Homo sapiens: one gene and its partner. The protein of the gene in region 1 purifies or fractionates together with the protein of each later gene. This does not show direct contact. Each region holds a gene or a part of one and is shown in the gene's direction. Other genes may lie near its edges.

What was found.
Region 2: the proteins of EPCAM (region 1) and MARCHF8 purify together in Homo sapiens (affinity purification with western blotting; one study listed by BioGRID). This does not show direct contact.

Annotation. Positions count from the first base shown.
Region 1 is NC_000002.12:47,372,139-47,375,956, forward strand, and holds part of EPCAM (epithelial cell adhesion molecule precursor), read left to right. Parts: intron 1-1,324; coding exon 1,325-1,432; intron 1,433-1,669; coding exon 1,670-1,910; intron 1,911-3,095; coding exon 3,096-3,161; intron 3,162-3,818.
Region 2 is NC_000010.11:45,455,071-45,458,888, reverse strand, and holds part of MARCHF8 (E3 ubiquitin-protein ligase MARCHF8), read left to right. Parts: intron 1-345; coding exon 346-650; 3' UTR 651-3,818. UniProt on the Homo sapiens protein: E3 ubiquitin-protein ligase that plays several important roles in innate immunity and adaptive immunity.

The DNA of each region.
Region 1 (3,818 bases):
TTAGTTAGGAAACTCACTTAAAGGGAGGACTATAACTGCAGTTGAAAGTGTAATTTTTCCAAGATATAAAATTGTTTAAAGATTGAATATATTCCTGTTAAGCCCCAAAGGAAACATCCCTCATTTAAGAAAATGGGGTGGGAGAGCAAGAGAAGGTGAGGATTCACAGATCCTAGAATTGGAATAGTTGATTTTTTTTTGTAAAAGAGGCGGTGACAGCCGGGCATGGTGGCTCACGTCTGTAATCCCAGCACTTTAGGAGGCCGAGGTGGGTGGGTTACCTGAGGTCAGGAGTCCTAGACCAGCCTGACCAACATGGTGAAAACCCGTCTCTACTAAAAATAGAAAAAAAAAGCCGGGCGCGGTGGCTGACACCTGTAATCCCAGCACTTTGGTAGGCCGAGGCGGACGGATCATGAGGTCAGGAGTTTGAGATCAGCCTGGCCATTATGCTGAAACCCCGTCTCTACTAAAAATACAAAAATTAGCCAGGTGTGGTGGCATACCCCTGTAGTCCCAGCTACTTGGGAGGCTGAGGCAGGAGAATCGCTTGATCCTGGGAGATGGATGTTGCAGTGAGCTGCGATTGTACCACTGCAATCCAGCCTGCACGACAGAGTGAGACTCTGTCTCAAGAAGAAAAACAAAAAAAGGCAGTGACTAACAGGGATGTTACTTAGCAGGACAGGACTGTGGAAGGAGCTAAGACTGGGAGTTTCACAAAGACAAAGCTAGAAATGATACTTGGAGAGCTGTGTTCTTGTTTTAAAAAAATTGTAACAGGAGGCCAGGCACAGTGGCTCATGCCTGTAATCCCAGCACTTTGGGAGGCTGAGGCAGGAGGATTGCTTGAGGCCAGGAGTTCAAAACCAGCCTGGGCAACATGGCGAAACCCCGTATCTACAAAAAGTTAAAAATTAGCCAGGCATGGTGGTGCATGGCTGTAGTCCCAGCTACTTGGGAGGCTGAGACAGGAGGATCACTTGAGCCCTGTAGGTCCATGCTGCAGTAAACCAAGATTGTGCCACTGCATTCCAGCCTGGGCCACAGAGTGAGACCCTATCTTTAAAAAAAAAAAAAAAAAAAAAAAAAAAAAACAGGAATGCATGCAGATTAAACTATGTGTCTGTATACAGTATGCAAACTTTAGCAAGTGCCAGGCACTTAGGCAGTAGTCTATAGCTGAAAAATAAAACATTCAGAACCACTTTTTAAGGTTTTGTGTCCTTGTAACTTTAGGCATTATTATTACAATATAACTTAGCTGGGACATGAGAGTTAATAGATCCACATTTTAAAGTAGATTTTTTTTTTAATTTTCTAGAATGTGTCTGTGAAAACTACAAGCTGGCCGTAAACTGCTTTGTGAATAATAATCGTCAATGCCAGTGTACTTCAGTTGGTGCACAAAATACTGTCATTTGCTCAAAGCGTGAGTAAAATATCCTAATTACCTGTAAGCTTTATTTTGACTTAATACTTCTTTAATTGATGTGCCTTGAGTTGGAAAGAGTTTTATTGGCTTAAATCTGAATCATGTTACAAAGTAAGTGTGGGAACACATAAATTTCAAATAATCTTTGACCCTGGAACTTTAGAGTTAATTTTTTTTTTCCCGTAATCATGAAATCAGTTATTTTTCAGTTTGGCATTAAGGTTTCTTTTTCAGTGGCTGCCAAATGTTTGGTGATGAAGGCAGAAATGAATGGCTCAAAACTTGGGAGAAGAGCAAAACCTGAAGGGGCCCTCCAGAACAATGATGGGCTTTATGATCCTGACTGCGATGAGAGCGGGCTCTTTAAGGCCAAGCAGTGCAACGGCACCTCCATGTGCTGGTGTGTGAACACTGCTGGGGTCAGAAGAACAGACAAGGACACTGAAATAACCTGCTCTGAGCGAGTGAGAACCTAGTGAGTGGGGCTGCCTATACTACTTGTTTTCATGCTGTTCAGATTCATTTAATTAAATTTATTTTTGATTATGTAATATGATTTCATGGTTTAGAATTCAGAAGATATGAGTGTCCAGTGAAAAGCTTCCTTCTCATTCCAGTCCCCCTCGCTACCCATTGGACCTCCACAGAATTGATGTTATTGATTATTCTATAACCTTCCAGAGATAGTTGATGAATTTGTTATATATCTGTTTTATTATTTTTACATAAATGATAGCATACTAGGTATAATTTTTCTTTTATATCTTTACTTAACATTATTCAGTATTTCATTGTTGCATTAGTAGTAAATGTATGTAATTTAACCTATGTATTTGCTTATTGATTGTGTTTTAAAAGTGAGATATGCTTGTTTTAGGGATTGTTTAATGAAAAGGCACAGAAACCCACTCAAGCTAGCTTAAGCAAAAAAAGACTTCATTGGAAGGGACTAGAAACTGGAAAGGATGTCAGGACCAAAGTGGGCACTTTGTTTTTCTGTTCTGGTCTTCTGGAGCCTCGTTGTCAGTTTTCTCTTTGTGCCCTTTCTTTTGTTTTTTCTTTTTTCTTTTCTTTTCTTTTTTTTTCGAGATGGAATTTCCACTCTTGTTGCCCAGGTTGGAGTGCAGTGGCACAATCTCAGCTCACTGCAACCTCTGCCTCCCGGGTTCAAGCAACTCTCCTGCCTTAGCCTCCTGAGTAGCTGGGACTACAGCTATACCACACCTGACTAATTTTTGTATTTTAGTAGAGATGGGGTTTCACCATGTTGGCCAGGCTGGTCTCCAACTCCTGACCTCAGGCAATCCACCCACCTCCACCTCCCAAAGTGTTGGATTACAGTTGTGAGCCACCATGCCCGGGCCTTTCATGCCTTTTCATCTTTTTAGTTGAACAGGGCATGACACTGCCAGCTAAACTTTGACTTAATGTGACTTTATGTATTGTGTCCAGAGAACAGAGGGTCAATATTAGAAAAGGTGTTCCCTCCTGGGTGTGTCCTTTATGAAGGATGTGTAAGGGAAGAAATTATAGGAATAGCTACTGCATAAATTTTTTTTCTCTTAGTCCTTATAATTCGAGAATTTTAGGATTAGCTTATTAGGAAAATAGTATGGAAGACTGAGTTATAGTCAACTGACATTGTCTTTTTACTTTATAGCTGGATCATCATTGAACTAAAACACAAAGCAAGAGAAAAACCTTATGATAGTAAAAGTTTGCGGACGTAAGTGCAATTAAATGCATCATATTCTTGCACAGTTGGTGGCTCAAATCTTCCATCCTACACCATTAGAAAAAGCAAGTCTAAATGCTTTTTTATATTTCTGAAAAATAAAGTTACTTGAAATAGAGTTGCAAGAATAGCACAGAGATTCTGGGAATACACTTCACTCAGATTCACCAATTAACATTTTGGCACATTTGCTTTTTATATGTGTATGTGTGGATGAATATGTGTGTGTGCTTTACATCAGTGTATCTATGCATGTATAAATATTTTTCCCAGAAGCACATGAGAGCAAGTTGTAGACATCAGGCCCCTTTACCCCTAAGTACTTCAGTGTATGTTTTCCTAAGAACAAAAGGCATTCTTTTATATAAACCACTATACAACGATCAAATTTAGGAAAAATTTTTTTTTTTTTTTTTAGACGGAGTCTCGCTCTGTCACCCAGGCTGGCGTGCAGTGGCGTGATCTCAGCTCACTGCAACCTGCGCCTGCCGGTTTCAAGCGATTCTCCTGCCTCAGCCTTCCAAGTAGCTGGGACTACAGGTGCCTGCCACTACGCCCTGCTAATTTTTGTAGTTTTAGTAGAAACAGGGTTTCACCATATTGGCCAGGCTGGTCTCGAACTCCTGAACTTGTGATCCTCCCGCCTCT
Region 2 (3,818 bases), on another chromosome or scaffold:
TATAAAAGCAGGAAGTAGCTGGACACTGTCTTCCACTCTTCTTTGACTGAGCAACATTGGATGAGTTGTGAATCCATTGGTCAGTGGTGCAGGCTTGTGGTCCCCAGATACTTGAGGCTGAGGGATGGAGGATTGCTGAGGCTCAGGAGTTCAAGGCTGTAGTGTGCCATGATCACACCTGTGAATAGCCACTGCACTCCAGCCTGGGCAACATAGCAAGACTCCATCTCTTAAAAAACAACAACAACAACAAAGAATCAGTTGATTATGGGAAGTTCAGAAGTTGTGTTTTTCTTTACTTCATATCTTAAATAAAATCTAATAGGCTGAGTTTTTCCCTTCCAGGAATCCTAGAATGGCCCTTTTGGACTAAATTGGTGGTTGTGGCCATCGGCTTCACCGGAGGACTTCTTTTTATGTATGTTCAGTGTAAAGTGTATGTGCAATTGTGGAAGAGACTCAAGGCCTATAATAGAGTGATCTATGTTCAAAACTGTCCAGAAACAAGCAAAAAGAATATTTTTGAAAAATCTCCACTAACAGAGCCCAACTTTGAAAATAAACATGGATATGGAATCTGTCATTCCGACACAAACTCTTCTTGTTGCACAGAGCCTGAAGACACTGGAGCAGAAATCATTCACGTCTGATTGTGTGCGGGTTGTCATTTTCCTGGACATCCATGAAGAGCTGAAGGAAATTGTTTACTGCCAATTGTATACCTTTCTTATGTCCTTTAATAGCATAGACTGGACAGGTGACTATTTATAGTGGCTTCTCTTTTTCTAAACCCTCCTTAGTCTCCTAGAAAACCTTCCTGTGGGCCAGGCATGCCTGGGTCCTGCCTCTGCCTGGCAGCTCTGTGGGAAAGTGGAAGACCCCATGATGACATCATGGGGAGCCAGCAGAGTTCCTGCCCATGGTCTTGAGCTGAATGAGAGAATAAAATGCCAATCCCAAGGGAAGAGGAGGAGCAGGGGTGCCCAGGCCCTGATACCCAGCCGCCTCCAGCTTGCAGTGGTCCCCAGCCTGGAGCAGAGCATTGGGGAGTGTCTAGCCATGACGAGAAGATTCCCTCTGCATCACGGCGAACCCCAGGAGATGGTATTGAAACAGACCCCCAAACACAGACTCCTGCCTGCCCTCTGCCGATGCTGCCTCCTCCATGCTCTTGAGCAGGTGGAGCCATGGTGCTCTGTGGTGGCGCATGATTCACTGAGCAAACAGCACTTTACAGAAGAAAATCTTTATTTTGTAATATGTGTGTCCAGCGGGATTGACACTCAAAAAAAGTCTCACTTAGAAATCTTCCCTTCCTTACCTTTGTATCTCCTTTACATCATGAGAGATCAAAAATCCATTTTGCCTTACATATGCTAAGAAGCGTGGCATTCTTTCTGTTCATAAAACAGACTCATGACTTTTAAGACAGGACAAGCAGGCCAGAGGCTTTTTTTTTAATCACAGATCTCATGGGAATTAGTGGATGCTAAATGGCAATTAAAGCATGATTCCTATGCTTTTGAGCCTGTTTTATGACAAGGTGTTACTTTGTAGACCTGGCCCATACATTTCTTTTTTGTCAACACTGAAAAAGAACAGTTTCTGAGATCGAAATGGAAGGAAAGGAAGTGAGTAATGACAACAAAACTGAATATTTAAAAAATATTCCTTTATAGTTAAATCTCTCCAGTTGGTGTTGGCTTCACATTGAAAGAGCAGCCATGTGCCACCCTGGCCGGGGTGTGTGCACTGCATGCAGGTTCTCCCTTGCATGCAAGATGGGTGCTGGCCCACTGTGAGGCTTCTGCTCGGGGAAGTTCTGTGGAGTCACTACCAGGGCCAAGAGGCAGGTGGGCTGGCTCTGGGACGAGGGCCAGGTGTGAGCAAACTGCCAGGGTCCGCTGTGCCACTGCTCCCCGGCCACATGCCCGCCCAGCTGTCGCCTTAACCAGACTGAACAGACAGGATCCTTCAGGGCCCTTGGCCCCACTCTCAGTGCATTCTGTCATCAGGGATTACCACCTGTACCATTTTCATAAAACAAAACCAAAATCACTACCATCAAATGGCCTTGTCCCTCTAAAAAGTCTGCTTAAAATTCTGTTTTTAAAACCCAGTTTCCTAGTTTTCCAGGCAAATAGTTACCTCCGGGAAAGTTGCTGGGGGGGCCTGAAGCACAATGTAGCGCAGATGCTTCCTTTCCAGGCCATTCTCTCACCCAGCCTGCACGGAGGAGATGGGAGATGCTGGGGGTCCTGCCCTCAGTCTTTTTGGGCCTTAGGCGTTTCGTTCATCCTGCTAAGGGGATGAAGCAAACACGAGGTGATTCCTTTGCCTTTCAGAGTGGAAGCCCTGGAGTTTGTTTTGAAGGCCAGGAGGCTGAAGGATCTCTAAGCTACGGTGTGGGCTTAATAGCAGCAGGCTTTGTCCTCCTGTCTCCTCCAAGCCAGTGTCTGATTCCTTGGCAACACAGGTCTTAGTCTGTGGAGTGGCTCTGCTGTGGCCTTCCTCTGGCCGGGCAGGCACTGTCCAGCCATAGCCAGCTCCTGAGAATAGGTCAGCCTCTCCTTTCTGTCTCCCAGGGCACATCCAGCCCGTGCCTGTGTTCACTGTGCCCCGAAGTGCAATTACCCATACCCCTTCTCAGCCTGGGGACCCCAGGCAACCACAGACTGTCCACTCAGGGGAGCTGAATCCCAGGTCAGCCCTGCCAATGTCCCTTAGGAACTGCCCAGGCAAGGCCCCTGGTTTTGTATACTTGTTCCTGCCACCCAGCAGTAGATGAGTGTTTCAGGTGAAGACCAGGATAGATTTTCTAAGTGTGAATCCCCACTTCACATATGGAACCCCTTATGCTGAACTTGAAAAGCACCAAGACTTCCTGTAGACAAGAAAGTGCTTAGGTAGGGACAGCCCCTGGGCATCCCACCCAATGTAGCTGGCACCCCACTATGGCAAAGGTGCCTTGATAACTGAGCCCTGTATCCCTCCCATGCCCAGCCAGATTCTCATGGGAAGCCCTCTCCCTTCTTTTCTGCCTAACACCATCTCATCGTTTCTGGCCTCACTGTGGACAATCCACACACATTCTTCTTTCCTCTCCTGGCGGGGCACAGAGCCACCCCCTTGCCTTTTCTTTTCTTGAAGGTTCTAGTTCAGCTCCTGATTCATCAGACCCTTCTAGCCCCCTGCATCTAGCAGTGAAGCATGAAGCCTGGTGGGGATGTGGTACTCCCATCTGGTGTGGCCACCAGCTCTGCCAATGTTCCTGTAGCCTTGGAAAACTTGCTCTCTCGGTTCTTTTGGGTGCTGTGTACTCCCCAGCTTCCCCCCTTCCCCCCCCATTTTGCACCTGGGTTTAGTGAAAGGATGGCATTTGGTTGACCCATATAGAAACCCAGAATGAGGTCTCAGGGCCAGGAGGCCTGGTATTTGTAGGCCAGGGAAGGGGAAGAGGCAAGTGGTCTGGGGTATCACCAGCCAGCCCTCTCTGATTTGGCCTCTACTCCCCATAAGTCACAGTACCATAAGCAGGCTTCTGGCCTCAGCAATTTGGTCTTTGTGCCCAAGTTTATTGTGAGAATTTCCTGAAAACTCTATAAAAGGTCTCTTCCTACTGTAGGCCTCTAATGTTTCTCCCCTTTTTGCTTCAGTCCACTCTTCAGTCTTGTAGGCCTAGTTTTCAAACCTGCACATGTGTCCTACCTGGCCACAGGCATGCAGGCCTCAGGCAGCTGGGCCAGTTTGGGAGCCTCGGGTGATGTCTGCACGATCTGGGGCTGCCTCTGCACCCCTGCTGTGGGCTTCAGGGTTGG